Homo sapiens: one gene and its partners. The protein of the gene in region 6 interacts with the protein of the main gene of each other region in a pairwise test. Each region holds a gene or a part of one and is shown on either strand. Other genes may lie near its edges. The genes, in order: ZNF232, CHST10, WDR88, TMEM185A, KLF15, HSF1 and LPIN1.

Region 1 (4,610 bases), on a different chromosome or scaffold from region 6:
CCTGGGTGCGGGGACATCACCCTAAGAGTGGAGAGGAGGCTGTGACTGTGCTGGAGGATTTAGAGAAAGGACTTGAACCAGAGCCGCAGGTGGGAAGGGGGATTTGGTCTGTTATGGGAGCCAGATTGATGACCTTCAGGCTGGACCGAGGGGCAGCTGTAGGGGGAGGTGCCAAGTTCAAACCTCTCTTGGGCCAGGTAGAGCAGTTAGTATGTGTTTCTGTGTCTGTCTTTTCTGCCCTCGAGCCCTGAATGAGAAAGAGACTCTAGCTCCTCTTCTTCCCTTGTGCTGACTCTGAGGAGGCTCTCTAAAGTCTCCTTGGAAGCTTTGGTCCAAGGAGGGTCACATCTGCAAGTGTCCAGGCAGGGGACAGAAACCACACTAGTAATTTGAAGAAAATTTAAACTGAGTGGTGCCTGATCACCTCCAGGTCCCAGGCCCTGCACATGGACCTGCACAGGAAGAGCCATGGGAGAAGAAGGAATCTCTGGGAGCAGCCCAGGAAGCACTGAGCATCCAGCTCCAGCCTAAGGAGACCCAGCCTTTCCCAAAGAGTGGTGAGGAGCAGGATTCTGTGGGGAGGGAGAGGAGAAAGAGGGACTATAAAGGGCACAGTACCTAGTACCTGTAAAGGGTAAATAGTAGTAGGTGCTTAAATGTTTGGTATCATCACAGCCTTACTATTCTTATCTCTTAGGTGAGAGACTTTGCCTGTTTCATCACTCATAAAATTAGGAGTAAGAATAAACTACCTCATAAGATAGCTCTGAGGATTAAGCTCAACTTGGGTCTTATCTGGATATAAAGCCTGGCCAGCATCTCTTAACTTTAGAGAGCCCTAAATCAGGACCAGGAAATAGCTCATTCATTTATGCCTTATCATCTCCACTGCACTTAACTCCTAGTCTATAATAACTCTGCCCTGAGCTAGAGGCCAGCCTTGAGATCCTTTTTTTTTTTTTAAACTCGCTGAGGCCTCGCAAAACACTTTTTAAGCCATAAAGCACTCCTATGTGAGATACAGCCTGTCATCACCTTTACCACCTCTTCCTCATGTAAACAGCCCTATCTGAAACTCTCTTATGTGTGCCCTCACCTTCTACCCTTCAGATTCACTACAGAAACTTCCTTCTTGGCCTGCATACATACCTGCAAACAACCTCTCCTCTCTCCCAGCGGCGAACACTAGACTTAGAGCCTCAGGGGCGTGAACTCTCCTTGTTGACCTCTGTAGCCTTGTGACCGTATTGTGAATATGCGGCTAACCAAGAAGAGTCTACTTGATATTTGCTTTTACACCATAACTGCCCCCCCATCACTATCACCAAACCAAGGCATTTGAAAAATCAAATTCTTCTTAGTTACAAAATGGGAAAAAATAGAAATGGAGATTAATTAGACTCTGTCCCAAAAGTATGTTTCTACTTCTTAGCTCTTCTTTCTTCCTTGACTTTTTTCCAGACTTTTTCTTGTCTCCTTTACTTCTGTTTAGTAAGCCTCTATTCATTTATCAATTTTATTACTTTACTCTCAAAAAGAAGCTAGCTATTGTGTGATTTTTTTTTTATATATAGCAAGCATATTTCAGATTTTTTTAACCACAGCATTTAACCTGAAAAAATGAATTTTTAAAAAATCAAATGATCTTGGCTGGGCACGGTGGCTCACGCCTATAATCCCAGCACTTTGGGAGGCTAAGGCAGGTGGATCACTTGGGTCAGGAGTTCAAGACCAGCCTGGCCAACATGGTGAAACCCTGTCTCTACTAAAAATTCAAAAATTAGCCAGGTGTGATACGCGCCTGTAATCCCAGCTACTGGGGAGGCTGAGGCACGAGAATCACTTGAACCAGGGAAGCAGAGGTTGCAGTGAGCCAAGATCATGCCACTACACTCCAGCCTGGGCAACAGAGCAAGACTCTGTCAAAAAAAAAAAAAAAGTCAAATGACCTTGAGTTATCTTAAAGCAATTGGTTTCTGTTCTCCTTAGGCTATAGGGAGCATTACAACAGATAAAACATAAAATGTGCTATGGACATTTAAAAACAAAAAGGCAACACACTCTTTTTTTTTTTTTTTTTTTTTTTTTCCTTTTTGAGATGGAGTCTCGCTCTGTCGCCCAGGCTGGAGTGCAGTGGCGTGATCTCGGCTCACTGCAAGCTCCACTTCCCGGGTTCACGCCATTCTCCTGCCTCAGCCTCCTGAGTAGCTGGGACTACAGGCGCCCGCCATCATGCTCGGCTAATTTTCTGTATTTTTAGTAGAGACGGGGTTTCACCGTGTTGGCCAGGATGGTCTCGATCTCCTGACCTCGTGATCCACCCGCCCTGGCCTCCCAAAGTGCTGGGGTTACAGGTGTGAGCCACCACGCCCGGCAACACACTCTTTTTCCCTTTTTAAGGAAGAGAAAGGCAGAGAGCACCAAGCAGATAGGAGGCAGGGAGCTGGAAGTCCTCCCTTTGATAAAGGAGGCAGTTAGTTGAGAGTCCTCTAAAGAGGCTATAGATTGATGCAGCTGGGAAACGGATGGGAAGAGGTGAAGGTTGCAGAGCCAGGAAGGGCACAGTTTTTTTTGCCTTTAGAAACCTCCCTTTTCCTTAACCCTAATGATTCTTTCATGTTTTTCCCTTTCTTCACAACATCATTCCCTGATTCCTTGAAAATATGAAAAATCCTAAAAAGACCATGCATTGTAATTGCTTTCATTTTTTCAATAAAACTTCTTTAGTGTTTCATTATGGAGAAATTAGGGGAAAAAAAGCAGATAAATGGGAGAAATTAAAAAGAAGAAACCCTCTCCTCTGTATAGTCCCATCACCAAGAGATAACTGTTGGCAATATCCAGTAAATATTCTTCGAATGTTTGTCATATATATAGTTGTTTTTAAGCATTTGTTTTCATTCCAGAAATATACATTTTAATCTAAGTGTCATTTCTTCATACATCCAGAACAGGTATATTTACATTTTCTGTCAGTTGTTACAGAAGATGGCCCAGAGCCCAAGGACAAAGGATCATTGCCACAACCACCCATTACTGAAGTGGAATCACAGGTGTTCTCAGAAAAACTTGCTACTGACACCTCTACATTTGAAGCTACCTCTGAGGGTACCTTAGAACTGCAGCAGAGAAATCCCAAAGCGGAGAGACTGAGGTGGTCCCCTGCCCAGGAGGAAAGTTTCAGGCAGATGGTTGTCATCCATAAGGAAATTCCCACAGGGAAGAAAGACCATGAATGTAGTGAATGTGGTAAAACCTTCATTTATAACTCACATCTTGTTGTCCACCAGAGAGTTCATTCTGGAGAGAAACCCTATAAGTGTAGTGACTGTGGGAAAACTTTCAAACAGAGCTCAAACCTCGGTCAGCATCAGAGAATTCATACAGGAGAGAAACCCTTCGAATGTAATGAATGTGGGAAGGCCTTCAGATGGGGTGCTCATCTTGTTCAGCATCAGAGGATTCACTCAGGAGAGAAGCCCTATGAGTGTAATGAGTGTGGGAAGGCCTTTAGTCAAAGCTCATATCTAAGTCAGCATCGGAGAATTCACAGTGGAGAGAAACCTTTTATATGTAAAGAATGTGGGAAAGCTTATGGATGGTGCTCAGAGCTCATTAGACATCGGAGAGTTCATGCCAGAAAAGAGCCTTCCCATTGAATTGAAGGGGAGAACGTCTCCAGACAGAATTCTACATCGGTCTAATCTACTTTAGGACTGGATCCCATAAAAGTTATAAGTTCCTTAAGATTTTTCCTGTGTCTTTCTTGATTTTGGAAAAACTGTTTACTTAGTTCTGCCTGTAGATCATCCCTTCATGTCCTCTGATGAAGATACTGATATTAATTAGGATGCTTTGGATGCAAGTAGTAGCCAAGTTGTTTTGCTTCTTTCCAGCATGATCTGCCTAGTTTGCCCACCAATAATGTCTACCTCATTAGAATTTTGTTGTTGTTGTTGTTTGAGACGGAGTCTTGCTCTGTCGCCAGGCTAGAGTGCAGTGGCACGATCTCAGTTCACTGCAACCTCCACCTCCCGGGTTCAAGCAGTCCTCCTGCCTCAGCCTCCCAAGTAGCTGGGACTACGGGCATGTGCCACCATGCCCAGCTGATTTTTTATATTTTTAGTAGAGACGGGGTTTCACCATGTTGGTCAGGCTGTTCTCGATCTCTTGACCTCGTGATCTGCCCACCTCTGCCTCCCAAAGTGCTGGGATTACAGGCCTGAGCCACCATGCCTGGCTACTTCATTAGAATTTTTTTTTTTTTTTTTTGGAGATGGAGTCTCGCTCTGTAGCCCAGGCTGGAGTACAGTGGCGTGATCTCGGCTCACTGCAAGCTCCGCCTCCCGGGTTTACGCCATTCTCCTGCCTCAGCCTCCCAAGTAGCTGGGACTACAGGCGCGTGCCACCACGCGTGGCTAATTTTTTTGTATTTTTGGTAGAGACGGGTTTCACCGTGTTAGCCAGGATGGTCTTGACCTGACCTCATGATCCGCCCACCTCGGCCTCCCAAAGTGCTGGCATTACAGACGTGAGCCACCGCGCCCAGCCTTCGTTAGAATTTTTCACCTGGCACTGAGCAGCTGCTCGGGAAGTGTTAGTTATATTTG
Region 2 (4,467 bases), on a different chromosome or scaffold from region 6:
CAGAGACCTTCACATCACAGGCTCTGCCCTCAAGCGGCTCAGAACCAATGAGGAAGTCAACCAGGAGAGGAAAAACCAGCGCCTACAAACACAAACCAGGTCCACAAGGGCATCATTTTGAGTCTTGCCATATGATTCCATCACATTCCCTTCGCTGAGGGGGATTTATTTTCTTATGAGAAAGTCTAGTTACAACACCTGATCCTAGTTCAATATGATACTGAAATTTGCTAACTGAGGATAAATCATTGCCACAAATATCACTGGCTCCACTGCTGAGCTGAACAGAAACTGTAACACTAAAAAAAGTAAGTGTTGCTTTAAACAGCAACTCACGACAACCATGCTCTTCCTAGGGGCTCCAGTGGCAGGAGAAACCGGGAAAGGCAGGTAGGTGAGAAGAACATGCACACCACTGATGGGGGTTCTGAGGCTGGCCCTGTCCCAGAGGACAGAGCTGAAAGGAGCAGCCCGGGAGCACTGAGGCCAAGGCTTCTCCACGCACTTTCCAGGAAATGGAACTCCCCACCGTGGACACTGCCGTGTCTGTTATTTCCTGGTCTTGACACTTCACAATGGGCTTCTGGTTCATAATCAAAAACACCGTGAACGTGTGTGAAATAAACTCCAACATGTGAGAAGCCCTTTATGGCCACGAGCTTAGAGGGGTTCCTGTGCTGCCCAAGATCCAGGCTCCGGGACACACTCTCTAAAGCACAGTGCTGGAAGGGCAGGCTCCAGGGGAGAGGCCTACACCACCCCAGCCCAGGGCCTCTCTGACGCCTGCAGGGGCAGGCTCTGAGTGTAAATGCTCTTGATGCTTCAGCCCAGCGTCCTTGTGCACTGGCAAGATGCTGGGTGCCAGCTCGCATCCTGCATCCAGAACTCAGCTGGCGGATATCCACCTTCAGGATCCTAACCTAACCAGGTCCCTTGGGACAATTAGGTAACATCTCACGCGAGTGAGGCAGGCTGGGTAGTGCTGTGGTGGTCACCCCGCAACGGGAGTGGGCCCACAACAGAAGATTCTCACTGAGTTCACTGCACACTGTGCGGCCAACAGCATCCTCACCACCAGCAGCCCCTGCCTCGGGGTCAGGGGCAGCACTCCCATCTCAGTGACCCAGCACCCACACACCACACCAGATCTCACAGGGCAGGGAAAGTGCCCCCTTTCACTCGCCTGAAGGCAGCCGGCTGGAAAGATCTCACAGGCAGTATTAAGGACCGCTGCGGTGCTCCTCTCCAGGTGTAAAATCCGAAAGCCCTTCATCTTTCTTCATAGGTTTTATCTCCTAACACTCCTTACCACTCCTTTTCTCCGCTTCACAAAACCCTGTTCTGCGCCTACACTTGCTTTTTTTCTAACCGGGCCTACCCCTGCTTAGCTTCCAGGATCAGTGTCTACACTGAAAACATTCAGCACAAAACTTGATACATCAAAGGAGAATGAGACCTCATTTACCAGATGCCGCTGGGAAACAAGGCATTCTTTAGAGGCCATTCTGCCAGATAACAGTAAAACACAAAGGCACAAGTCTTATTTAACTATTACCTATAGAAGTCTCACTAAAATGTATTACATCTACTCCTACTTTTTTAAGCAAAATAAACCATAAACAATTTAACCTCATGACCTGCCTTTTGAGTGCCTTCCATACCAGGAGGTGACATTTAGGAGAATCCTGAGTAACACCTATTTCTTATTCTCAGCAGCTCTGTTTCTCTTCAGTTCTCCAGCTAGGATCTACCACTGTGCTTCTCAACTGGGCCCCACCCCTAGTGATTCTCCTTCACTGGGTCTCAAGCAGCAGCAGGTCTGTAAAGTCCCACAGGTGATTCTGAAGTGCTGCGGGGATGAGAACCCGGCTCTAGGGCTTCAGGAGGGATCTCTCAGTGGCATGGCACTGTGCTGAAGCTGCCATGGAAATGTCCAAACTGTCAAACTGAGATCATCGTGTCACATTCCAGCAACCCTCCAAGAATCGACCCTTGCTCTGCTGACGGAACCCCGAGTCCCGGGCGTGAGCTGTCATGCTCAGTGACACCTGCCCAGATACCTGCAGGTGTAATATCACCTCCCGAGGCTGTGCAGACCTCACAGGTTTCTCTCCAGGGCTCCTGGAGGATGAGGCAGGACATGTGATGACAGCCAATCAGGGCCCAACAACTGTCATGGGGAGAACCACCATGTGGGCTAATTTCAGGGTGTCCCTCTTTTCCCTGCAGACCTCCCTTCTAACCTTGCTGTCCCTCTGCAGACAAGGTGGGGCAGAGAGAGGATGGGGCAGGAGGTGTAGGACATCGGGCAGTCCTTGACACAGCCAGGGACATGCCTGGGAGCTCTGTGAGGTGGAGCAGGGGCCTGTCCCACACAGACAGCACAGGTCAGTGCAGCCTCCAGGAAGAACTGCTGGCACAGAGGCATCTCTAACTGCCCCTTTCCAAGGCCACCATCGGCAGGAGGACAAAGTACGGTGCAGAGCACAGCAAAGTGCTGTGCTCATCCACGTTCCCCAGTATCTCCCAATCAGCCTAAAGGAATGGGCCAATCCACGGCACAAATGAGGACTTCAATGACTCCATGTGTCTGGCTTCCTCGTGCTTGCCTGCTTGGCCACTCAATGAAGTGGCCTCGGGGCTGGAGAGCATATCACACACCTCTTTGGACATATCCAGCACTCCACAGACCACAGAGCACCTCACCATGCTCAGGGCAATCATGGGCGGTGCCGGAGCAGGCAGGGTGTCCATTTGGTGGAAGAAACATTGTGATGTAGATAAGCAAATGACAAGAGCACGAAGTAGAATCAGCATTCTGAGACCCAATTTGGCGCTCTTTATCCGTCCTCATCTGAATGCCTACGTTCAGTAAAGGAGAGCTAAGAAAGCCTCCAAGACAACCTGAAGACATACATTTAAATGACCCTCCTCCGCTGCATGGAGGGTGACCTTCAAACATGTGGCCACCACACGGGCATGCCAAGCAGTTGAGGCTGCACCTCTCATGATGACATGAGGCAAAGAGAATTCCCAACTGCGAGCCTGAGAGGCGCCCTGCTGCAAGGCATAAGGCCACTGTGCTGCTGGGAGGAGACCCTGCTCCTTGCTCCTAGGCACCACCCAGGCCTCAGCCACAAAGAGCAGCTTCCTTCCTCCAGAGGAGATGCTTGAAAAGACCCTCCAGCCCCTCCCACCCTACCTCCCCTCACACCTCTGTAACATGAAGGAACGGAGGCCATGACCTCCAAGGTCCCTGCTGGCATGAAAGTCCTTTGACTCTGTGACAGAAGTCATCTATGCATGTACCTAGGAACAGTGTTGCAGCTAGGTCTAAATTAGCCAAAATTCGTTCCACCATGAAGCATACGTACCATCTGGGTCTTTAAAGGTCAACGTGATGAACTTGCTAGCCACCATGAACATGAAAATCACCCAAAAGCATGCGGCCAGCAGAAGCCACTGGTGGTGCATGTTGTCACACCGCAGCCATTCACTGACTCTTCCTGGAAAACACAAGCGAGATGCCCCTGCTGCTTACAAATACATCAAGTCAACAAAGAGGAATGAAAACGACAGGTGATTTCAGTCAGTAAGTATCAGCACAAATATTTCCGTTTTTTTCCACTGCTACAATAGGTAGTTTGACTTGGCATTTAACATTTCATATTGAATTAATAATATAAATGATTGATTCAATAATAAAATCAAATTTAGAACACCCTAATGGAGAGACATGATAATGAGAGAAGACCACTTCCTTGTGTTCTCAGAACACAGAATAAGACTCCTTTGCACATTTGATCCCTGACTCCTGTTGGGCCCAGGCTAAGGTCCCAGTGAGCTCCCACGATGGTCTGGAAGCAGGTGGCAGGAAGAGGCCTGCCAAGGACTAGGCCTTAGCTGAGGGTCATTCATAGTGGGCAGAAGCCATGCTGGGGCAATTAGGAGCTGGCTGTGTTTAAAATTCTGACTGGCTGACAAGATGTAGCCACACCTAGAGAAGCTCTAAAAAAGCAAAGGAATGAACACTGACGCTTCTCGCCTCCGCCCACTTGCCAGCAGCGGCCTGGGTAGAACACTGAGGTGGGTGTTTTTCATGCTGTCACAGCCAGGGAGCAACACGGGGCATGTCGGTCCTCAGCCTGGCACAGAAGCCACACTCTCCTGCAGGAGGCACATAAAGAACTGGGAAGTCACTGTCAGTTCTTGGCAGGTGACACAAGAAAGTGTGTTTCATTTCACCTTTAACACAGTGCTTCTTCAAGCCAAAGCTCTCCACGTACAGACAAGACCCTGGGCTGAGCTGGCTTCCACCGACTGACTGAGGCCATCCATCACTTCTGCATGGCAGGGAGAAGTGGTCCCCTCAACACAGTGCTGATGGCAAATAATTTCAGAGAGAGCCTCCTAACCCTGGGTGGGTCAGAGCTCCATGAAGACCCAGGTGAATCACTCTCCTTGTCT
Region 3 (4,060 bases), on a different chromosome or scaffold from region 6:
ATCAAAAGCACAGTGAGGTATCACTTCACATCTATTAGGGGGTCTATAATAAAAGAACTCAGAAAATAATGAATGTTGGCAAAGGATGTGGAGCAACTGGAACCCTTGTGCCTGACTGATGGTGACAGAGTGAGACCCAGTCTCAAAAAAAAAAAAAAAAAAAAAAAGATTTTACTTACTGGCAACAACAGGTTTTTTGATTTGTAGGCTTTATTTCCCAGCACTCCAAAAGTGTTCAATGTACTAAATCTATAAGCTTGCTTTGAAAGACCAGGTATTTGTCAATGAAGTCCTTTGCACTATAAATTCACGGTATAGGCTATATCTATCTAAAATGTGCATTATTTATTTATTTTATTTTATTTTATTTTTGAGATGGAGTTTCTCTCTTGTTGCCCAGGCTGGAGTGCAATTGCACAATCTTGGCTCACCGCAACCTCCGCCTCCCGGGTTCAAGTGATTTTCCTGCCTCAGCCTCCCGAGTAGCTGGGATTACAGGCATGCACCACCACGCCTGGCTAATTTTGTATTTTTAGTACAGACGGGGTTTCTCCATGTTGGTCAGGCTGGTCTTGAACTCTCGACCTCAGGTGATCCACCCACCTTGGCCTCCCAAAGTGCTGGGATTACAGGCGTGAGCCACTGCGCCCAGCCCATTTATTTATGTTTTAAAGAGACAGGGTCTTGCTGTATCGCCCAGGCTGGAGTGCAGTGGCATGATCTCAGCTCACTGCAGCCTGAACCTCCCGGGCTTAGGCGATCCTCCCGCCTTAGCCTCCCGAGTAGCTGGGATTACAAGGTGCCCGCGATCATGCCTGGCTAATTTTTTGTATTTTTAGCGGAGGCGGGGTTTTCCCATGTTGCCCAGGCTGGTCTCAAACTCCTGGCCTTAAGTGATTCGACCGCGTTGGCCTCCCAATGTGCTAGGATTACAGGCATGAGCCACTGTGCCCGGCCCATTTTGACATCTTTTCTATGGTCAGAAATGATAATAGCCATCTTGTAGGCACATGTTTAAGGAAGATATCTCTTTCCATTTCTCTAATTGAAAATCTTGGCTGGGCACGGTGGCTCATGCCTGTAATGCCAGCAATTTGGGAGGCTGAGATGGGCACATTGCCTGAGCTCAGGAGTTTGAGACCAGCCTGGGCAACGTGCCCAAACCCCATCTCTACTAAAAATACAAAATATTAGTGGGGTATGGTGGCGCATGCCTGTAGTCCCAGCTATTCGGGGGGCCAAGGCAGGAGAATCACTGGAGCCTGCGAAGCGGAGGTTGTAGTGAGCTGAGGGCATGCCACTGCACTCGGGCCTGGGTGACAGAGTAAGACCCTGTCTTAAAAAAAGAGAAAAAAAGAAAGAAAAAATCTCATTAAGTGCTTCTGTACATTTCGAGGAAGGTGAAAAGTGGCCCCAAACACACTATAGGTGTGTATCACCACACCCAGCTAAATAAAAAATATTATTATTATTATTTTTTTGAGACAGAGTCTCGCTCTGTCACCCAGGCTGGAGTGCAATGGTGCGATCTCGGCTTATTGCAAACTCTGCCTCCCAAGTTTAAGTGATTCTCCTGCCTCAGCCTCCTGAGTAGCTGGGATTACAGGCATGCAGCACCAGGCCTGGCTAATTTTTGTATTTTTAGTAGAGACAGAGTTTCGCCATGTTGGCCAGGCTGGTCTCAAACTCCTGACCTCAGGTGATCCGCCTGCCTTGGCCTCTCAAAGTGCTGGGATTACTGGTGTGAGCCACCATGCCCAGCTTGAAACTAACTTTTGAATTAAAGTATCTAAGAGCTGGGAGGATGTTTTTTGTTGTCATGATTTGACAAACCACTTGCTATACTGTAGGAAGTATGCTTATTGGTAAGATCTGACAGCTTTAGGCAGCATGAAGTCAACACATCTGTTACAAAAATGACCCCTTTGTTCTCCCACAGGATATTTAGTTGCAACTGCTGAATCAAGAAATGTAACATACTCAATGTATCCATTTTTTTATTGCTGCTATAATAAGTTACCAGACTGTACTGTTTAAACATTAAACAACATAAATTTAATATCTTACAGTACTGTAAGATAGAAGTCTGATAAGCTCTCACTGGGCTAAAATCTAGGTATCAACAGGACTGCATTCCTTTCAGGAACTATTATTAACTAAGGTCCATGGTTTTATAGTTTCATGCTTTGTGTTACTGTATATTTTTGCCAAATGCATATCATATATCCACCAATACAGTGTCATATAGTTTTGTTTGTTTGTTTGTTTTGAGACAGAGTCTCACTCTGTCGCACAGGCTTGAGTGCAGTGGTGCGATCTTGGCTCACTGCAACCTCCGCCTCCTGGGTTCAAGTGATTCTCCTGCCTCAGCCTCCCAAGTAGCTGGGACTACAGGTGCACGCCACTGTGCCCAGCTATTTTTGTATTTTTAGTAGAGACGGGGTTTCACCATATTGGTCAGGCTGGTCTTGAACTCCTGACCTCACCCACCTTGGCCTCTCAAAGTGGTCGGATTACAGGCATGAGCCACCGCGCCTGGCCATACAGAATAGTTTTACTATTCATCCCTCCTCCTCTTCCCTATAATCCTGGGCAATGACTCATCTATTTATATTCTTCAGTTTTGCCTTTTCCAGAATGTCATATGGTTGGAATTATACTCTGTAGCCTCTTCAGGTTGGCTTCTATGGCATAACAATGTGCATTGAAGGTTCCTCTGTCTTTTTGTGCCTTGACAGCCCATGTCTTTTGATTGTTGAATGACATTCCTTTGTATGGATGTACCACAGCCTGTTTTGTGACCGCTGGTTTGCTATTTGTTTTAGGATAGGACCATGAGACTGTGGAATATTGAAGAAATTGATGAAATTCCTTTGGTAATCAAGTACAAAAAGGCCGTGGGCTTAAAGTTGAAACAGGTTGGTATTGGGTAAAATTAAGCCCAGTGAAGGCTTTCGTTAGTTCCCTCTATAAATTAATTTATCATTTGAATGAACTTTGGGCACCTGGAGATGCAATCGTGAACAAACAGACTGACATTTTTGCCCCAGGGGAGCTTAAATTCTAAGAGAGGAAACAAAGAGGAAAGACACAAGAAAAATGTGTAGTAAGTCTCATGGTGATAAGTAATTGACAGAAAAATACATAGCAAACAGGAGTAGGAGTGCTGGAGGTTGCAAGATTTTAAAGGGTGGTCAGGATAGGTCTCATTGAGGACTGACAGCTGTGTCGACTTGAAGGTGGTGAGGGGGTGAGCCATGCAGATATTTAGAGGAAAGAACTTCCAGCTGGATGCGGTGTTTCACGCCTGTAATCCCAACATTTTGGGAGGCTGAAGCAGGCGGATCACCTGAGGTCAGGAGTTCGAGACCAGCCTGGCCAACATGGTTAAGTCCTGTCTCTACTACAAATACAAAAAAATTAGCCAGGCTTGGTGGTGCACACCTGTACTACCAGCTACTCGAGAGGCTAAGGCAGGAGAATCCCTTGAACCTGGGAGATGGAAGTTGCAGTGAGTTGAGATTGCGCCACTGCACTCTAGCCTGGGTGACAGAGCGAGACTCTGTCTCAAAAAAAAAAAAAAAAAAAAAAAAAAAAGAGAAGAAAGAACTTCCCAGCATAGAGAACAGCCAATGCAGAGAGAGCCTGAGAGGCAGGAGCCAGCCTGGTGCATCGGAGGGGTGGAGTGAGGGGGCTTGGAGGGGATGAGACCTGCAGGAGCACTGGTCAGTGGAGGAATGGCCGGGTACACAGCTGGGCACTGCGTCAGCCTCCTACCCTGGGCAGGTCCCCAGTGCCCCACTTCCCATGCAAAAGGCTTAGGTGCCTGCGCTTCTCTAGTGCAAGAGCTTGGTGGTCAGGCCAGCATATTTTCTGCTTCACCAGGCACAGCTGGGGCTGGCCACAGAGGCTGTCCCTGGGCAGTGGAGGCAACTCTCCGCTGGAGCCTCTCTGTGCACACACCTGGCTGCTGCCTTGGAGTGCAGGCTGGGCCCCTTTAAGTCCTTCCCTGGGAATCCTGGAGCTGCCTAGACTTGGCCTCCTCTCAGAAGGTTCGGCT
Region 4 (4,467 bases), on a different chromosome or scaffold from region 6:
ACATTGTAGATCCAGTATGCTAAGGAACCCTCTATTTACAAATTGTAAGTGATTAAACAAAACAAACCTGTTAGTGGCGCTTATACATCCAAATGAGTGTTGTTATTCAAAGAGGTTACTTGGGGAAAGAGAATGTATACACCTATTCCATTGTTCATACTCCTTGTTACTCATCTGGAATTCCCTTTAAAGTCAGTTTACATATCACATAAGAAGATCCATCTCATTGCTTTATGATCATCTATCATTTTCAACCAAAATAGTTCCACCTAGTTTGATCACACATCTTATTCACTAACCTTGGCTCTGACTGACTGTTTGCCATTTCCAAAATTTGAATCCACCCTCAGTGAAAATTTAGCACCATTTGGGATAGTCAGAAGATCAGACTGCAGGTTCTCAAGGTGCTTCCAAGAAGAAAGCTTCAAAGATGATTTGAGTAATGAAGTACCATTGGAATTACTGCATTGCCTCCCAAGGGGACTGGTTAAAGGAGAGAAATCTCATTTGAATGTATAATTTCCAGTTTTAAAAGTATCATTCCTATTACTTGATAATTACACACACATTGTTCTTAGCTGTGTTCTTTGAGGGCCAGGATTTGGAGGTGCTGAATTACGTGCTGAATGAGTGGATGTTGGGTACAAATAGACATCTACCACTGGGAAGTCTTTGTTGTACAGGAGAGACCGTGGATTGAAGGAGTTTTAGATAGTTTCCTAGGACTCCAGAAGTTAAGCTTTTTAATATGGAGCTTGAGTTTTCTAATCATTTTGCCTGATATGTCATGCCTGTACAAGATGACTGGAATTTAAGACAAAAGCCTCGAACTCTGGAGATAGATGCTTTATAAGTGGAGACTCATACTTTGTCAGCTCCAACCTAATAGTGACAACAATGATTGCTAAATGAGATTATTACCTACAATGTGGCAGAACTTTTGTCTTTCATAATACTGCTAAAGCTAGAATGGGTAAAATGTATCATTTACACAGTGCTTTCACATACCCTTGTCTTAATGAATCAGTATATGAGGAATCAGATGAGGAGACAGACCTGGGGGAAAATAACTCACCCAAGACCACACCGCTGATGAATGGCAGTTGAGGAACTTAAATGCAGATCTTCCTACTGGCCTGGGCTCTGCTTTTATTTGGCTTTTGTGCTTTTTTGTATCTACTGGTTAAATGCTCTTAAACATTTTTTATCTTAATAAAACCAGCTAAAGTCTCCACTAAAAGACTTTAAATTTGGTTAATAAGGTGTAAGAGGGGCAGTTCCCTTGATAGTTTGTGAGTATGTCAGGTTGTCATTTGGAGCCATTCTGTCAAGCTTTAGACTGGGATGTGCCATCCAAAGTTTGTGTGTGTGTATGTGCTTGTGCGTGTGTACGTGCATGCAGGCATGTGTTAATGCGCGTGTATGTGCTCCAGTGAAGCCAGCAGCTTCCACTGGAAAAAAACTGATAGGTCTAAAAAGAGTCCAGCTGCATTCTTATGATATGCAGAAAACAGATACTAGAACTTTTACATTCAGAGTCATCATTCCTTTGCTAAGTATATTCTCTCTCTCCCTCCCTTCTTCCTTTTCTCCCTCCCTATTCTCCCAACCCTGCAAAGTGGAGAGAGGGAATTTGAGCCTGAGCAGAAAGCTCCATGTAAATTTCAGAGAGGATACTAGCTTTGGCCCAGGTAGCACTACTTAGTGATTCATCGTATACTAACACTACAGATTCAAATGAGAGTGGAATAAATCCATTCTAAAGGTGTAACTGGAAAAGTGAATTTTAAGAAGTAGTGATTAATGTTAAACCAGAACCTCCCATTTCTCCCAGGTTTGTGGAGAATTAAGCAGTCTATTTTTATACTTGGAATCTGGTCTGAATGTTTCTTGAAAAGTAACTCAAAGTAGTTTAGGCTATGACCATAAGTTATTTTTGTAAATACATTTTCTTATCACTGTATTATTGCATATTATTGTGTATTCTTTTGCAAATCAGGCTTGATATTTCCTTTTGGCTATGCAGTCACCTTTTAGACTTTGCTTGCAAATATATTGATATAGTTAAGATACTATTCTTTCTTTCCCCAACTAGGAGTGTGTATGAATTACATCTTTTGAACTTACTGATTGTATTACTTTGTTTTACTTGATCAACTTTGTAGTTTAATTTTTTTAAAAAGCTAGCTGTTGGGATTACTGATCAGTTTCATTTTTATATCTATATTTCTACTTTTAGTTTTATTATTTTCATGTTTTGGCTTTTTCCCCAAATTTCTTAGAAACTCAGTTTACTAGTTTTCTTTTGCCTCTTTTTTTTTTTCTTTGTTTTCTACTTTTACTTAAACATTTTAAATGAACACATTTTCTCTTGAGTTTTGTTTTGGCAGCTGCCCAGGTATTTTTATGTTTCAATTGTATTTTAGTAACTCTACTAAACTGCTTAACAAATCAGTATTGAAAATGATCCATTTTTTGTCAGTGTTTTTATGAATTGTATAAAATGTCTACCTCTGGTCTCTACTGATTACAATCTACCTTACACACTCATATGTATCTTCTGTCACTCTTGTTGAGAAAATCTGCAGTGGCCCCATATTACCTATTAATAAATTCCAAGGACTTTACCTTGATATTCACATTCCCCTACCATGTTACCACAGCCAACTTCTGGCTTATTCCCCCCAGTACCCTTTCTCCTGTCTCTGCAGCACCCTACCCACCACGATTTATAGAAAGTATTCTGTGTGTTCCAGTCTGCTGGAATTGGAGAGGGGAGGATAAAGAGGGGATGAGCAATGGGTACAATAATACAGTTAGATAGAAATAATAAATCTAGTGTTTGGTAGCACAAGAGGGCAAATATAGTTAATAATGTATATTTGCAAATAACTAAAAGAGTGGAATTGAAATGTGCCTAACACAAGTAAGTGATCAGTGCTTGAGGTGATGGATATCCCAGTTACTCTGATTTGATCATTACACATTGTATGCTTGCATCACAGTATCACGTGTACCCCATAAATAGGCACAACTGTTTTGTATCCATAATAAATAAAAATAATTTTTAAAAAATTGGAAAACATCTTATTCCCTTTGTCTGGAATTCCTTATTCCCAACTTGTTGCCCAGATTCCACTTCTCTTCCCATCTCTCTCAGGGAAATTAATCTTCCAAGTCCCCTAGTTTACCATATGTAGTTACTTGTTGATACATCATCTCCCTCTGTTCCTATTAGTCTGAGCATCTTGAGCGAACGCATTGTTGCTCCTTTTTATGTATCTCACACATTTCAGGCACTCAAATATTTTTAACAATTGTAAATTAGATGTGTGTTTATTGTGTATTGCTGCCCCATGATCCTTTTTTTCTCCCTGGAAAAACTATATATATGTAAAGCAAGTATGTTTTCTTGTTCTGCTACGTAATTATCTTCATATAAGCTTGCTGTTTTTTAAATTTTCTCGTTCTGCTACTTAATTCTCTTCATATAACCTTGCTGTTTTTTAAATCTACTCTTGTGTTCATTTCCGTATTTTCCTTAGGAACTTTGTCTGTTTTATCTGTCATGATTTAAGAGTAGCATGAGGAAGCCCACAATTAAAATATTTCTGTGTATCCTTAAAAAAGAAAAATTGTAAAATTATTTCCATATTCCATGGTCATGTTAGGTTTTTGTTATTTAGGTTTTCCTTATTAGTCCTTTTAGCATTTTAATACTTTCGGCTTTGAAATCTAATTTATCTAATTTTAAAGATAGTAAATTGTTGCTCTTGTCTTCATCCAGGCGTGCTAAACCTCTGTCATCTGATTTCTGATAGTTGGTTCGACTTTTGACTTTGGTTCCAAGCGTAACTCTTGAATGTAACAGGTTTACTTTCTTAATCTAGGAAGCAACCTTTCTTTTTACAGAGCTGTGGTAGGCAGAATAATGACGCCCCCAAGTATGTCCACATCCTAATCCGTGGAACCAGGGAATATGTTCTGTTACATGGCAAAGGGGAATTAAGGTAGCAGATGGAATTAAGTTTGCTCATCAGCTGACCTTAAAATAGATTATTCTGGATTCTCTGGCTGAGCCCAATGTAATTACAGGGCCCTTAAATATAGAAGAGGGAGACAGAAAAGGAGGTCAGAGTGATTCAGTATGAGAAGAACTGCATTCTCCATTGTTGACTTTGAAGATGGAGGAAGGGGCCATGAGCTAAGGAATGTGGCAGCCTCTAGAGCTAGAAAAGGCAAAGAAACATTCTCTCCTAGAGCCTTCAGTAGCATAGTCCTGCTGACACCTCAAGTTTAGCCCAGCGAGACCCATATTGGACTCTGACCTCCAGAATTGTAAGGGTTATGCCTTTTAAACCACTAGGTTTATGCTTTTTAAACCACTAGGTTTGTGGCAGTTTTGAATGGCAGCAATAGGAAATTAATAAGAGAACATTCAGCTCATGTATATTTTTCTAACCCTAG
Region 5 (4,467 bases), on a different chromosome or scaffold from region 6:
TGGCCATTGGGCAGTGCCGGGTGCCAGGCCCTGAAGGGGTCCTGGAGACAGAGGGGCTGGGTGTAGAGGTGATGCTGGGCAGCAGAGAACCTCTGACTTTGGTGCAGAGCATTCCCCTTCCCCAAGCTTGATAAACACCCAGCCTGCCCTGGTCACTGAGCAGGGACAAAGGTTCACAGAGGTGGCCCCGTCACAGCTGGACACTATTGACTCTCCTTGGCACCAGACCTAGCATGTCCTTGGCTTCAGAGGATGCAGCTTTCCCTTCTCCTCTCTATCAAAGTTCTCTGAGCCCCTGCTGGGCACCAGCGGCCAGTCCAGGCACTGGGGACGCAGCAGAGACATGGAGTGCACTGTCTCAGGGGGAGACAGGCATTAGCTGAACCTTCGCAAGGCGGTGAGTGTCCCAGATGGAGAGAGCAATGGCAGAGAGTGCAGGGGACTCCACTTCCTTATTGGTCAGGATGGGCTGGGGGGGTGGTTGTCTCCTTTCCCACTAGATGGGTGTGAAGTCCAAGGCAGTTAGGCACATGCGGGTGCTCTGGGACCCCAGTGGTCTGCTTCCACTCCACGGATTATCACCAGAGGGGCAGGGCCTTGGCCACCAGGATGCTCAAGCATCAGGGTGCAGGTGAGAGGGTTGCGTTCAAGCCTGTGCCACTCACAGGGCAGTCAAGGCTCAGAGGGGTTTGAGGACTGGAGAGTGGAGGAGCTTTAGGTGGGGAAACAGCTGCGCAGGCAGGCACTTTTTGGTCTTTGACTGTTTTGCCTACATGCTACACTTGCCCAGTTAAAATGCAGGCGGCCTAGTTAAATTTGAATCTCAGGTGAAATAATTTTTAAATGTAAGTGTGTCCTATCCAATATTGGGAACATACTTATATTAAAAATAGTTTATTTTTTAAATCTGAAATTCGAATGTAACTGTTGGCTTGTATTTTTATTTGCGTAATCTGGCAACCCTCTGGAAGCCTCAGCAACATGAGGGTCAGAGGGCAAATGGCTGTTCTACCCCCATTCTGTGACTCAACAGGCGTGAAGCTGAGGTCAGGAGTCCTCAGATGTACAGTGACTCCTATGATGTTGACGGTGGGCTGATTCAGGGCTTTGGCCCTCCTGGGGTCCAGAGAGCCTCCTCGCGCATGCCCTTCTCTCATACTCACCCATACTCAGTTGTTCACAGACATATGTGCTATTTTCCAGGATAATTCTGGAAAATCTGTTTGAAACCAGAAGTGCCCCTGGTTATGCAATGGGCTTGGAGAGGTCTCTTTTGCAAACAGGTGGTGCAATTTCAGAAAACACTCTTGCAGGCACAGCTCTCCTGGGGGATGGAAGCAGGATCCAGGCGTTTGGCAATAGGAGGCTGTGGGCAGGCAGCTGAGGGTGGGGTCAGAGGCCTGCGAGGTGGCAGGTGAGCACTGTCCTTCTGACCAGGCCTCCTGTGTTCCTTTCCTGCAGCCGCCACCGGCACGGCCAGGCCAGCATGGTGGACCACTTACTTCCAGTGGACGAGAACTTCTCGTCGCCAAAATGCCCAGTTGGGTATCTGGGTGATAGGCTGGTTGGCCGGCGGGCATATCACATGCTGCCCTCACCCGTCTCTGAAGATGACAGCGATGCCTCCAGCCCCTGCTCCTGTTCCAGTCCCGACTCTCAAGCCCTCTGCTCCTGCTATGGTGGAGGCCTGGGCACCGAGAGCCAGGACAGCATCTTGGACTTCCTATTGTCCCAGGCCACGCTGGGCAGTGGCGGGGGCAGCGGCAGTAGCATTGGGGCCAGCAGTGGCCCCGTGGCCTGGGGGCCCTGGCGAAGGGCAGCGGCCCCTGTGAAGGGGGAGCATTTCTGCTTGCCCGAGTTTCCTTTGGGTGATCCTGATGACGTCCCACGGCCCTTCCAGCCTACCCTGGAGGAGATTGAAGAGTTTCTGGAGGAGAACATGGAGCCTGGAGTCAAGGAGGTCCCTGAGGGCAACAGCAAGGACTTGGATGCCTGCAGCCAGCTCTCAGCTGGGCCACACAAGAGCCACCTCCATCCTGGGTCCAGCGGGAGAGAGCGCTGTTCCCCTCCACCAGGTGGTGCCAGTGCAGGAGGTGCCCAGGGCCCAGGTGGGGGCCCCACGCCTGATGGCCCCATCCCAGTGTTGCTGCAGATCCAGCCCGTGCCTGTGAAGCAGGAATCGGGCACAGGGCCTGCCTCCCCTGGGCAAGCCCCAGAGAATGTCAAGGTTGCCCAGCTCCTGGTCAACATCCAGGGGCAGACCTTCGCACTCGTGCCCCAGGTGGTACCCTCCTCCAACTTGAACCTGCCCTCCAAGTTTGTGCGCATTGCCCCTGTGCCCATTGCCGCCAAGCCTGTTGGATCGGGACCCCTGGGGCCTGGCCCTGCCGGTCTCCTCATGGGCCAGAAGTTCCCCAAGAACCCAGCCGCAGAACTCATCAAAATGCACAAATGTACTTTCCCTGGCTGCAGCAAGATGTACACCAAAAGCAGCCACCTCAAGGCCCACCTGCGCCGGCACACGGGTGAGAAGCCCTTCGCCTGCACCTGGCCAGGCTGCGGCTGGAGGTCAGTATAGCGAGTGACAGGCCTGGGCAGTGAGCACAGCCACTCATGTCTGCTTACTTGGGTGTGCAGCAGGGCCATTTTCCACCATTAACAGAAGGTAGATGAGGGAGGGGAGGGAGGGGCAGGCGGGTGCAGGCCCAGAGCTGGCACAGTTGCCTGGAGGCTTCCTTGGTCCTCCTGGTTCCTGAAGCCGGAAGCCAACTGGTGTCCAGTTTCCTGATGGCCAGGTAAGGCTTCACTGGCCTGTGCTGCCAGCTGGGTCTCCCCATCCAGTCTGACAAGGGTGGGGATTGAGGGGCTGGCGAGGAAGGATGAGTGCGGTCTAGGGGCCAGGCAGCGGCTCCCTTTGGGCCCACAGCCCCACAGGGTAAGTACCACCATCACTCCCAACTTACATCACAGGACACTAGGGCTCCGACTGGCCAGGTACTTGCCCAAGGTCACTCTGCTTTGTGAATGGGATTTGAACCCAGAGGCCGGATTCGAGAGGTCACATCCTGAAAATGCTGCTTCCCCAACCAGTGGGACTAGCTTCATTCACAGATGTCTCTGGACACATGGGCTGGGCCTCGCCTATGCTTCCTCCCTGGGGACGTGGAAGCATGTTTGGGAGGCTGCAAAGGCCAACCCAGAGGGAGGCTAGGCCAGCTGGTGGTGCTGTCACAGGTGGCAGAACCCAGGCTGTCTGGTCTGCATGGCAGTGGGGAAATCAGGCCTCAAATGGTAACTGGTAGTCTCCCAACCAGGGAGCACCCTTCCCTGAGCACCGGGTGCTGCTCAACCTCCTTGGGAGTGGCTGTCCACCTTTTCCTGAAATGTAGGCTGCTTGCGAAGAGCTCATGTGCTCCGGGGTGCCAGAGCCAGCCCTCTGCAGTTCCTGATGCCCATCCCAAAGGAATCTCTGGCCTGCCTGGGGGGCGCTGTGTGCTGTTGGCACATTCCAAATCTTTGCTGCTGTGGCTGCTGCTACGTGTGTGAGACGGGGCACACTCATCTGTATCCCTGGGGGTGTATACAGGCCTGGGCCTCGCCAGCAGGTGTGTGGCTGTGTGTGTGCACACCCACATGTGTATGCATCTTGCTTTCTTTGTGTCTGTCTGTGCCGTGTGACCATATGTGTTTGCACACATACATGTCTTAGGTGTTTGTGCACCATGTGTGGCTGCCTGTGTGTGCATGTGTTATGTGTGGGTGCAACACCCGGGGAGCAGTTTGCAGCTTTTGTTTTCTTGACCATACTCTGGTTCTGAGAGCTCTTGAGAGTTGTCTGGGGCAGAGGTTCTGGCCAGTGAGGCTGAGCTGTGGTCAGGGAGCTGTGAGTGGAATGTATGTTGTGGCACTGGTGCCACCTTTCCATTGAGTGCCAATCTGGCCAGAGAAGGGAATTTTCCTGAACAGTGTCTAGGTTTATGGAGGCCCCTCCTGAGTGAGGACATCACTCTGTCCTGTCTCCCACCCCATTCAGACAGACCGGAGAGGCTTCTGTGAGAGCCCACCCTGGGGCCTCACAAGGTCTCCATCCTGGAGTCCCCACCTCTCTGAGCTTTGTACCTAGGCCTGCCGAGTGGGTGCATGGCTGACAGGTTGCTTGTGAGAGGAGGACACAGCAGCAAGTACACTGCATAGGAGGTTAGAGGAGCCGAGAGAAGGGCCAGGAGTGCTCTTGATTGAAGCAGGAAACTTGTGCAGAGAAGGCGAGGGCACAGGTATGTGGGGGCTGTGGTCTTGAGCCTACGCCTGGGTCAGCCACTAACTTGTCATGTGCCTTTGGGGTGGTCCCCCTCCAAACCTCAGTTTCCTGTCTGCAGAGTGGAGGGCTAGCCCTTTGCAGCCCAGGGCAGGCGTGCAGGGCTCCACAGCGGCCTCCTTGTTGTTTGTACATCATAAGGATACAAACTC
Region 6 (4,276 bases):
ACCCTACGTGACACCAGGTGTCCCCGGCAGGGAGGGGCAGTGGGACCAGCAAGCCCTGGCCCTGGCCCCCAGTCCCTCCACACACAAGTTCTCATCCTGGGGTGGGCCAGGCCAGACATGGTCACACTTACCCCTGCTCCTGCATGGGGGACAGGGAGGGTCTGTGGGGCTCCCTCAGCCCTGGGGCTCATGGGATTGGGCCCCACTGACCCAGCCTGGTCTGTTGCAGTGAGAATGAGGCTCTGTGGCGGGAGGTGGCCAGCCTTCGGCAGAAGCATGCCCAGCAACAGAAAGTCGTCAACAAGGTGGGGGCAGGGCCAGAGGGCCGGCGGGGGCCCCACAAGGGCCGGGGTAACTGTGTCCTCTCTCTCCACAGCTCATTCAGTTCCTGATCTCACTGGTGCAGTCAAACCGGATCCTGGGGGTGAAGAGAAAGATGTGAGGTTTTGGGGATGCCTGCATCCACCACCCGGGGCCCAGGGCTGTCCCCCTTCTCTGTCAGCTGTGCCCCGGGTACCCCGAGGTGGGGGGTGGTGGCTGACCTGCACCCTTCCCCACAGCCCCCTGATGCTGAACGACAGTGGCTCAGCACATTCCATGCCCAAGTATAGCCGGCAGTTCTCCCTGGAGCACGTCCACGGCTCGGGCCCCTACTCGGTGAGTGCCGGAGACAGGGCACCCGCCCAGGCATGCAGGCGGCAGTGGGGTGGGTTGCCCCTGCCGGCACTGCATGGACCTCCTGCCTTTGATTGCAGGCCCCCTCCCCAGCCTACAGCAGCTCCAGCCTCTACGCCCCTGATGCTGTGGCCAGCTCTGGACCCATCATCTCCGACATCACCGAGCTGGCTCCTGCCAGCCCCATGGCCTCCCCCGGCGGGAGCATAGACGAGAGGTGGGGGCCGCATCACCCCAGCCATCCTGTCCCCCAATGAGGCGAGCCCCTGTGGGCCCAGGGCAGAGTTGGGGATGAGGTGGGGCTGGCCGAGACGCCAGCTCACCTGGCCCCCCTCGTGTGCAGGCCCCTATCCAGCAGCCCCCTGGTGCGTGTCAAGGAGGAGCCCCCCAGCCCGCCTCAGAGCCCCCGGGTAGAGGAGGCGAGTCCCGGGCGCCCATCTTCCGTGGACACCCTCTTGTCCCCGACCGCCCTCATTGACTCCATCCTGCGGGAGAGTGAACCTGCCCCCGCCTCCGTCACAGCCCTCACGGACGCCAGGGGCCACACGGACACCGAGGGCCGGCCTCCCTCCCCCCCGCCCACCTCCACCCCTGAAAAGTGCCTCAGCGTAGCCTGCCTGGACAAGTGAGTGCCGCCCACCCCTGGCCCCACCCACAGCGCCTGGACGCACAGCCCTGGGCTTCAGCCCCGACTGTCCCAGTGGACTGAGCAGGGCAGCTGGCGAGGCAGGACCCTACCCCCAACCTCGGAGCTCGGGGCTGGGGAGGGAGACAGGTGCCAGCCAGATCACCCCACAGTCCCAAACGCCACAGAAGCCACGGGCATGTCCGGACAGGCTGCCGGGCCCTGCTCTCAGCCACCCGTCCTGCTGCCGCCACCCTCGCCACAGGCCACGGGCCCTGGCAGGTCGTGCTGCCCAGACACATGGCAGGAGATGGTGAGCAGGGCCGGCCTCCACACCCCCAGCCCCTGCCTGCAATGGGGGCTCTTGTTTTTGTATCTTGCAGTTTGGCTCGCACTCCACAGATGTCTAGGGTCGCCCGCCTCTTCCCCTGCCCCTCTTCCTCTCCGCATGGCCAAGTCCAGCCAGGGTTAGCGCTGACCCCACTGGGGAGGGAGGAGGGCTCTGCCAGCGCTCGGGCCCTCCCACACAGCCGTGGACCAGACCCAGCCTGGCCGGGCATGAGCGTCGGGCCTGGGCGGCAGCAGCCGAGACCCCTCTGTGGCGGGGGCTCAGTGTCGTCATGGCTCCCCTGGCCACGGGCCTGTGGTCATTGCCTGTGACAGGGATGACAGGGACAGGCCTCCCTGCTCTGGCACGGCCTCTGGTGTTGGCAGGATCCAGACTGCGGTGCTGACTGCACTTCCTGTCAGGCAGGGTCTCCAGGGCACCTCTGGGACCCAGCCTGGCTGTCCGTCCCATAGCCCAGGTGTGCCCTGTGGCCTAGGGCTTTCTTGGTCACAGCCACCAGACCGTGGGTCTCATCCCCACAGCAGCACCAGGGCAGGGACTGAGCCACCCACACACTGAGCAGAGCCCCACCTGTTTTCCCAGTGCAACGGGAAACCTCACCAACCCTGAACACTGAAATCCCTGATCCTTGTGCTGGAGCTGAATACGCCCCTTGTCTCCTGGGTCCACTGCCACCAAGGCCCCCAGGCCCTCATGGCAAAGGGATGCCCAGCATAGGCCCAGCCGCACCCCTGCAGGGCACAGAGCCTCCACTGCCTTCCAGGCCGTCCTCGAATGCGCTGCCCCCTCCAGCCTGTGCAGGCGTACACGGGGGTGCAGCCTGGGGGGTACAGTCAAGGGGAGCCCTTCTCCCACAGGAGGGCATTGGGGTGTGGGGCCTGGGGCACTGGTTCAGGTACCGCCTTATCCCGGGCCAGGAATGAGCTCAGTGACCACTTGGATGCTATGGACTCCAACCTGGATAACCTGCAGACCATGCTGAGCAGCCACGGCTTCAGCGTGGACACCAGTGCCCTGCTGGACGTGAGTGGAGCCCCGCCGCCCCGCCTCCCCGCCCCGCCTCCCCGCCGCGCCGCCCCGCCTCCCCGCCCCGCCTCCCCGCCTCCCCGCGCCGCCGCCCCGCCTCCCCGCCCCGCCTCCCCGCGCCTCCCCGCCTCCCCGCCCCGCCTCCCCGCCTCCCCGCCCCGCCTCCCCGCCCCGCCTCCCCGCCCCGCCCCCGGGTGCTGTTCTGACTTCCCTCCCTCCTCCGCAGCTGTTCAGCCCCTCGGTGACCGTGCCCGACATGAGCCTGCCTGACCTTGACAGCAGCCTGGCCAGTGTGCGTAGGCGGGCGGGGGGTGAGGGGGAACGAGACCAGCGGGAGTGCTCACAATACCGTCTCCACCCCACAGATCCAAGAGCTCCTGTCTCCCCAGGAGCCCCCCAGGCCTCCCGAGGCAGAGAACAGCAGCCCGGATTCAGGTGAGCCAAGTCCCACCGGCCCCACCTCTGCCCCCAACCCCCCACCGCCTTGACACCCCCACCCCCGCAGGGAAGCAGCTGGTGCACTACACAGCGCAGCCGCTGTTCCTGCTGGACCCCGGCTCCGTGGACACCGGGAGCAACGACCTGCCGGTGCTGTTTGAGCTGGGAGAGGGCTCCTACTTCTCCGAAGGGGACGGCTTCGCCGAGGACCCCACCATCTCCCTGCTGACAGGCTCGGAGCCTCCCAAAGCCAAGGACCCCACTGTCTCCTAGAGGCCCCGGAGGAGCTGGGCCAGCCGCCCACCCCCACCCCCAGTGCAGGGCTGGTCTTGGGGAGGCAGGGCAGCCTCGCGGTCTTGGGCACTGGTGGGTCGGCCGCCATAGCCCCAGTAGGACAAACGGGCTCGGGTCTGGGCAGCACCTCTGGTCAGGAGGGTCACCCTGGCCTGCCAGTCTGCCTTCCCCCAACCCCGTGTCCTGTGGTTTGGTTGGGGCTTCACAGCCACACCTGGACTGACCCTGCAGGTTGTTCATAGTCAGAATTGTATTTTGGATTTTTACACAACTGTCCCGTTCCCCGCTCCACAGAGATACACAGATATATACACACAGTGGATGGACGGACAAGACAGGCAGAGATCTATAAACAGACAGGCTCTATGCTATGGCCTCCATGTGTTTCCTCTGTCCCAGGGTGGTGCGGTGGGTGGTGCTGCAATGAGGAGGGGCCCAGGGCACAGAAGGGCCGGGCTGCAGTGGCCTCCTGGGGGAAGACGGATGCTTGCAGCTAGCTCCGTGCCTGCCCGACTCCCCAGGACCAGCATGTGCTTGCAGTTCTTTATTGAGGGACCAGGGGTGGGCGCCTCACCTTGGCCCTGGGGGTCTCTGGTTGTCACAGGACCACCAGGAACCCCCTTCCCAAGGTGTTCGCACTCGGACAGGTGATGCGGGGCGGGCACACTGTCTTTCTGCCAGAGCCAGCACCCTGTGTAGGCACGGGGAACGGGAGCCTGTCCCGTAGCTTTAGGGTTCTCCACTCAGCCTGGTGGAGGAAGGGAAGGGGGCCTGCGCTGGGCAGTGGAGCAGGCTTTGCTGCTTTATCTGGCAGCAACAGTTTGTTCTCGAGCTCCACTGGCCAACTGATAGGGAGAGGCACAGGAGCC
Region 7 (4,467 bases), on a different chromosome or scaffold from region 6:
ACCTGCCTCCATGATTCAGTTAACTTCCACTGAGTCCCTCCCACAACACGTGGGAATTCAAGATGAGATTTGGGTGGGGACACAGCCAAACCATATCAGGATCAAAAAGAACTTTGAACCAATGAGACGCTGTCCAGGAATGGGAAAGTGGCAGGTCTTGCCATGCACGCATGGAAAGAGGGACTCCAGCATCTGAGAGGGTTTGGCTAGGTGGCCTCTGCGGTCATTGCATTGACTGAGGCTCTAGGGTTAAAATGCACACCTCGCCCATGGCTTGGCCTAGGGTGGAGCTCTGCAGACTTTACTCATTGCCAGGGGATGTTGACATTTTACACCTGGACTGGAGGCGGGGTTGTTCCTGTGAGAGAGTAAATCTCCTCCCCCAGGAAGCTCACATTTCTCTGGCGCTGAACTTGGTATAGCTATTTCTGAGCCAAGTAGATGCTTGTCATTCAGAACTGGGACAGTCATCTGAAATGTCTTCAGAGGCTGGGGCCACACAGCGGGAGCAGCTCAGTTCTTTTTCCCTTTCGTTTGCGAGTGTCTGTGCGTAAGCTCTGCCTGCTTGGGAGGAGCACTGTGTGTGGAGGTCGGTCTGGGGGAGGCGCGCAGATGGAACTCGGCCTGGCCGCTCAGGGAGTGTGAGAGTGGGTTTGGTTCCAGTGCACCGCGGCCTTGTAGTCAAGCCTGCAGGGAGGGGCCCTGCTGCCGCAGCCACAAACCTCAGACAAATAAGCCTTAAAGCCGGGAGGTATTTTAAAAATCTGTCTGTTTGTTTGAATCCCAAGGAAAGACATAACTCTTGGTTTTGTATTAGGAGACGTCACTTTCCCATTTTGTGCAAGCACACTGTTTCTCATAAGTCCTTTGGAGGTCCTTTATTAAATATACACACTCGGCTTCATTTAGTACATTATTTTATACCTCAGAACATGCACACTTCTGGAGTCTGGATTTTGGAAGTTCCTTTAGGTTCTTAGCAATTTGGAACTAGACAGTGATCAGTGACTGTCAAGGAGGAATCTGGGGATGGCTGGCAGTGGGCTGGGTGTGCCAGAATCTCAGTTTGGAGGTGCCTGGAGGTCTGAACATGCATATTCAATATAGCAATAGCAACTTTCTTTTCATAGTATAAGCCACAGAAACTAACATGCAACATATTTTTGGGCATGCAAATAAAAGAGAGCAAGAGAACGTTGTAGGAAGCATTGGGAAGCCCTGCTCTAATTCAGCTCCACAGACTATAAAGACGAAGGGCTCCAAGAGGGCAAGACAATTGTCCAAGGTTACAGCAAGCAGGAGAGCCCGGGTCTCTTGACCGTCATGCCAACCAGGGCTTTTTTCTCTAAGACGTGTTGATAATTTGTCATTTAGATACATTTGAGCACCCAGTATACATTATTTTAATGTTGCATATGTTATTTTATTTAAATTATCCTTAAAACTGTGGCATAGTTTTTATTTTCCTCCCTTTACAGTGGAGGAAATTGGCTTAGAGAGGTTACGCCATTTGCCCACGATCACGCAGCTAGTAAATGGCAGAGCTGAACATCAAATTAATGTCTCTTTAACCCCAGGACCCAGCTCCTTTTCACTATGCAATGAAGCAATCTCTGTCAGGTGCTCCAAAGATGTGCCTTGTCTGTGATTCTTCCCCCGATGTCCCATATGTGACCCCTGCAGCAGGCGCTATCCCATGGCCATGGTGACTTCCTCCTGCCGTCTTTTGCTTGGCTGTATCTCCTTTACCTGTCCTTCAAGTGAAGTCAGGTCCCACCCACCTCTTCCCCAGAGCCTTCTCTGATGCCTTGTTTGCATACTCTTCATTTTCATCTCTCATTTTCAATTAATCGATAACAAATTATTCTAGAATGACTTGAGTCGTGTCGATAAGTAGGCGGTCTGCTCCTTGAGGTTGTAGATCTCTCTTGACTTCTACGTGCAGCCCTGGGTGCATAGCTGGTATCGCTCAGTGCCAGTGACAATGTCCCTTTCCTTCCAGGTATGTGAGACTCTGTGAAGTAGTCGACCACGTTTTCCCGTTGCTGAAAAGAAGCCATTCTTCAGACTTTCCCTGTTCGGATACCTTCAGTAACTTCACCTTTTGGAGAGAGCCACTGCCACCTTTTGAAAACCAGGACATTCATTCTGCCTCAGCGTAAAATGTCCCAAGCAGCCTCTTGCCAGCAGTGCAGAGCCTGGTTGTCACCCATTAAAGGATAGGTCTCCCCGGAGTGCACAGCTCCACCTGGGAGCCTGGCGCGTCATCATTGGCCTGACAGCAGAGAGAATTGAGAAGCATTTCTCCCCTGCCCCACCCCGGGGCTGACATTTCTAAGCAAGATAGGAAGGGAGCACTTTCTAGGCTAGGAGTTGGGTGCATTTGTACCGTGAAAAGCATTCCTCAGTTGTGGCTTAATGCCAGTTACGACGCTGCCTTTCCGGCCTGCTCCAGCAAGTAGCTACTGGTTCACGTGCAGTTTGGGGCTGTGAAACCTAGGCAGAAGGCGGCTGTCTGAGGGCTGTCCCCGCCTAGGACAGGGTCAATCGAGGAATGCCAGATGTGCACGGTTTTTGGCAAAGTAGGGGGCACATTTCCATTATAGCAATGTTAGTGCCACCACCTTCTGAACACAGTGGGGAGGGCTGTGAAGGCTCATGTGACCTGGATCTGAGGTCTCTGATAGAAATCTGGACGCCACCGGGTCCAGGCCTGGCCTCAGACTTGGCCTTGTGGATGGGCCCCTTACAGTATTTGCTGACTAGTCTCATTTTTAGGTGATAAATTTTTCTTTAATTCCTTTGGTTAAAGATAGTCTATTTCATTGGCATATCTCCCCCCAGTTTTTGTGGCTCAAGGCTGGAATATTTATGCCTTAATATATCTATGGCAGACATTTAAGAATGCGCTTTATCTAGCTCATGGTAACTTTGCAACGCCTTAGATTAAAATGACAGTAAATATTACTAAGGCAGTATTTTGAATGAGTTTGACACTGCCGGCTTCCTTCCATCCAGCGAGGTGGTGCTGACAGTGTGGACTTGAGCACACTTATGCCAAATGATAATGATACTGACTTCTGTTGGGAGCTCTCCAAAGAAACTGGTTGGTTTTAAGAAAATAGTTTCAAGAAGTTCAACTATATTCTTTTAGATATTATGTATTGTTTTACTCTGATTAGGTTACTGTGATAGGCATTTATTCATATTCTTTCTATACCACTGTCATTAATATATTAAAAAGATGTATGTGTTAGACTATCGAAAGGGCCTTATTCTCTCTTTCTCATAGACTGACCTTCTTTTGGAATTTCTGAGTCATTTATTTTCCTTAGCTTTTTCCACTCAAATTAAGGGCAAGCGAAAAAGTAATAATTTGGCATTCTTTAAGCCTACAGAATGTGATTCTTTCACTTGTTTATTACACTGGCTCGTGGACAGAACAATTTGAAAAGTGAAAGAATTATTTTGGTAAAAGATTTTGCTTTACTTTTCGAAGCATTATTTTTTTAAAGAGTGTTTTACTCCAACGATTGAAACATTTTCCTATTTAAATTTCATTGTTAGAATCACAGGAGGCAAAAAATGGAACGGTTGAATGAAATTTTACTCTTTCTGTGAAAGAAAATCCACAGAGTTGTTGCCTCCGTTGTAGTTGGTGGGCCCCGTTAGCATTGGATGCCTTTGCCAAATGGTTCATGTGGACACACAAAGGCAAACAGATCTGCCATCGATCGCAGATTTCTGTAGAAACACGGATGTGCATGTGCAGATTCCCTTTTGCAGGTATTAAAAATAATTAAAAATAGTCCTGCCTGAGGTTGCAGTGAGCCGAGCTTGCACTACTGCACTCCAGCCTGGGTGACAGAGTAAGACTCCATGTCAAAAAAAAAAAAAAAAAAAAAAAAGTCCTGCCTTAACTAACTCCTCTGCGCTTGTTCACTAGTAACCTAAAGAGGCTATATTCATTCTTTATGCAATGAGGGTATTTTTGAGTGAATTTTAACTGCTCTGAACTAAGTATAAGCTCATGGGCCTGCAAAGGTTCAGACGGTTTCTCCTTTGCACCCAGGAGGAACTTTGGCTGCGAGAATGGGGGGATGTATCCCTCATGCAGTTGGCATCCAGGCAGCCCTCTGCAGCAGCACACCCTGCAGGCGGAGTTTTCAGAGGATGCAATTTTGGATCCCGAATTTTGATGTACCTTAAACTTCCACATCACTGCACCCTGAAACAGAGCATGCTTTCCAGAAAGTCACACTCTCAGATCTGTGTCAAGTTCAATGTGAGCCCTGGCAAGGCTGGCATATTAACACCTGCCTTCTGGCTTCTGAAAGTGAGATTTGTATATGGGCTGCACTCACGCATATACGAGTTGGTTTATCTTTGTGTACATGACTATAACCCAGTGATGCTGAGGTCATGTGCTGGAATGCTGTATTTGGACCACACATTTCAAAGTTGCCC

Evidence for each region.
Region 1: the proteins of HSF1 (region 6) and ZNF232 interact in binary tests that used the Homo sapiens proteins (3 or more experiments, as listed by UniProt).
Region 2: the proteins of HSF1 (region 6) and CHST10 interact in a two-hybrid assay, tested with the Homo sapiens proteins (one large-scale study listed by BioGRID and IntAct).
Region 3: the proteins of HSF1 (region 6) and WDR88 interact in binary tests that used the Homo sapiens proteins (3 or more experiments, as listed by UniProt).
Region 4: the proteins of HSF1 (region 6) and TMEM185A interact in binary tests that used the Homo sapiens proteins (3 or more experiments, as listed by UniProt).
Region 5: the proteins of HSF1 (region 6) and KLF15 interact in binary tests that used the Homo sapiens proteins (3 or more experiments, as listed by UniProt).
Region 7: the proteins of HSF1 (region 6) and LPIN1 interact in binary tests that used the Homo sapiens proteins (3 or more experiments, as listed by UniProt).

What each region holds. Positions count from the first base shown.
Region 1 is NC_000017.11:5,104,873-5,109,482, reverse strand, and holds the end of ZNF232 (zinc finger protein 232), read left to right. Parts: coding exon 1-89; intron 90-430; coding exon 431-557; intron 558-2,949; coding exon 2,950-3,659; 3' UTR 3,660-3,747; downstream 3,748-4,610.
Region 2 is NC_000002.12:100,403,202-100,407,668, forward strand, and holds part of CHST10 (carbohydrate sulfotransferase 10), read right to left. Parts: exon of another isoform or gene 4,246-4,467; intron 3,507-4,245; 5' UTR 3,475-3,506; coding exon 3,375-3,474; intron 1-3,374. UniProt on the Homo sapiens protein: Catalyzes the transfer of sulfate from 3'-phosphoadenylyl sulfate (PAPS) to position 3 of terminal glucuronic acid of both protein- and lipid-linked oligosaccharides.
Region 3 is NC_000019.10:33,169,523-33,173,582, forward strand, and holds part of WDR88 (WD repeat-containing protein 88), read left to right. Parts: intron 1-1,980; exon of another isoform or gene 1,981-2,825; coding exon 2,826-2,918; exon of another isoform or gene 2,919-3,063; intron 3,064-4,060.
Region 4 is NC_000023.11:149,621,478-149,625,944, reverse strand, and holds part of TMEM185A (transmembrane protein 185A), read left to right. Parts: intron 1-4,467.
Region 5 is NC_000003.12:126,349,942-126,354,408, reverse strand, and holds part of KLF15 (Krueppel-like factor 15), read left to right. Parts: intron 1-1,461; coding exon of another isoform or gene 1,462-1,486; coding exon 1,487-2,568; intron 2,569-4,467. UniProt on the Homo sapiens protein: Transcriptional regulator that binds to the GA element of the CLCNKA promoter. Binds to the KCNIP2 promoter and regulates KCNIP2 circadian expression in the heart. Is a repressor of CCN2 expression, involved in the control of cardiac fibrosis.
Region 6 is NC_000008.11:144,310,945-144,315,220, forward strand, and holds the end of HSF1 (heat shock factor protein 1), read left to right. Parts: intron 1-229; coding exon 230-305; intron 306-376; coding exon 377-438; intron 439-560; coding exon 561-657; intron 658-755; coding exon 756-892; coding exon of another isoform or gene 893-933; intron 934-1,018; coding exon 1,019-1,300; intron 1,301-1,683; coding exon of another isoform or gene 1,684-1,767; intron 1,768-2,566; coding exon 2,567-2,672; intron 2,673-2,901; coding exon 2,902-2,967; intron 2,968-3,040; coding exon 3,041-3,110; intron 3,111-3,180; coding exon 3,181-3,386; 3' UTR 3,387-3,776; downstream 3,777-4,276. UniProt on the Homo sapiens protein: Functions as a stress-inducible and DNA-binding transcription factor that plays a central role in the transcriptional activation of the heat shock response (HSR), leading to the expression of a large class of molecular chaperones, heat shock proteins (HSPs), that protect cells from cellular insult damage.
Region 7 is NC_000002.12:11,822,630-11,827,096, forward strand, and holds part of LPIN1 (phosphatidate phosphatase LPIN1), read left to right. Parts: intron 1-2,002; coding exon 2,003-2,162; 3' UTR 2,163-4,467. UniProt on the Homo sapiens protein: Acts as a magnesium-dependent phosphatidate phosphatase enzyme which catalyzes the conversion of phosphatidic acid to diacylglycerol during triglyceride, phosphatidylcholine and phosphatidylethanolamine biosynthesis and therefore controls the metabolism of fatty acids at different levels.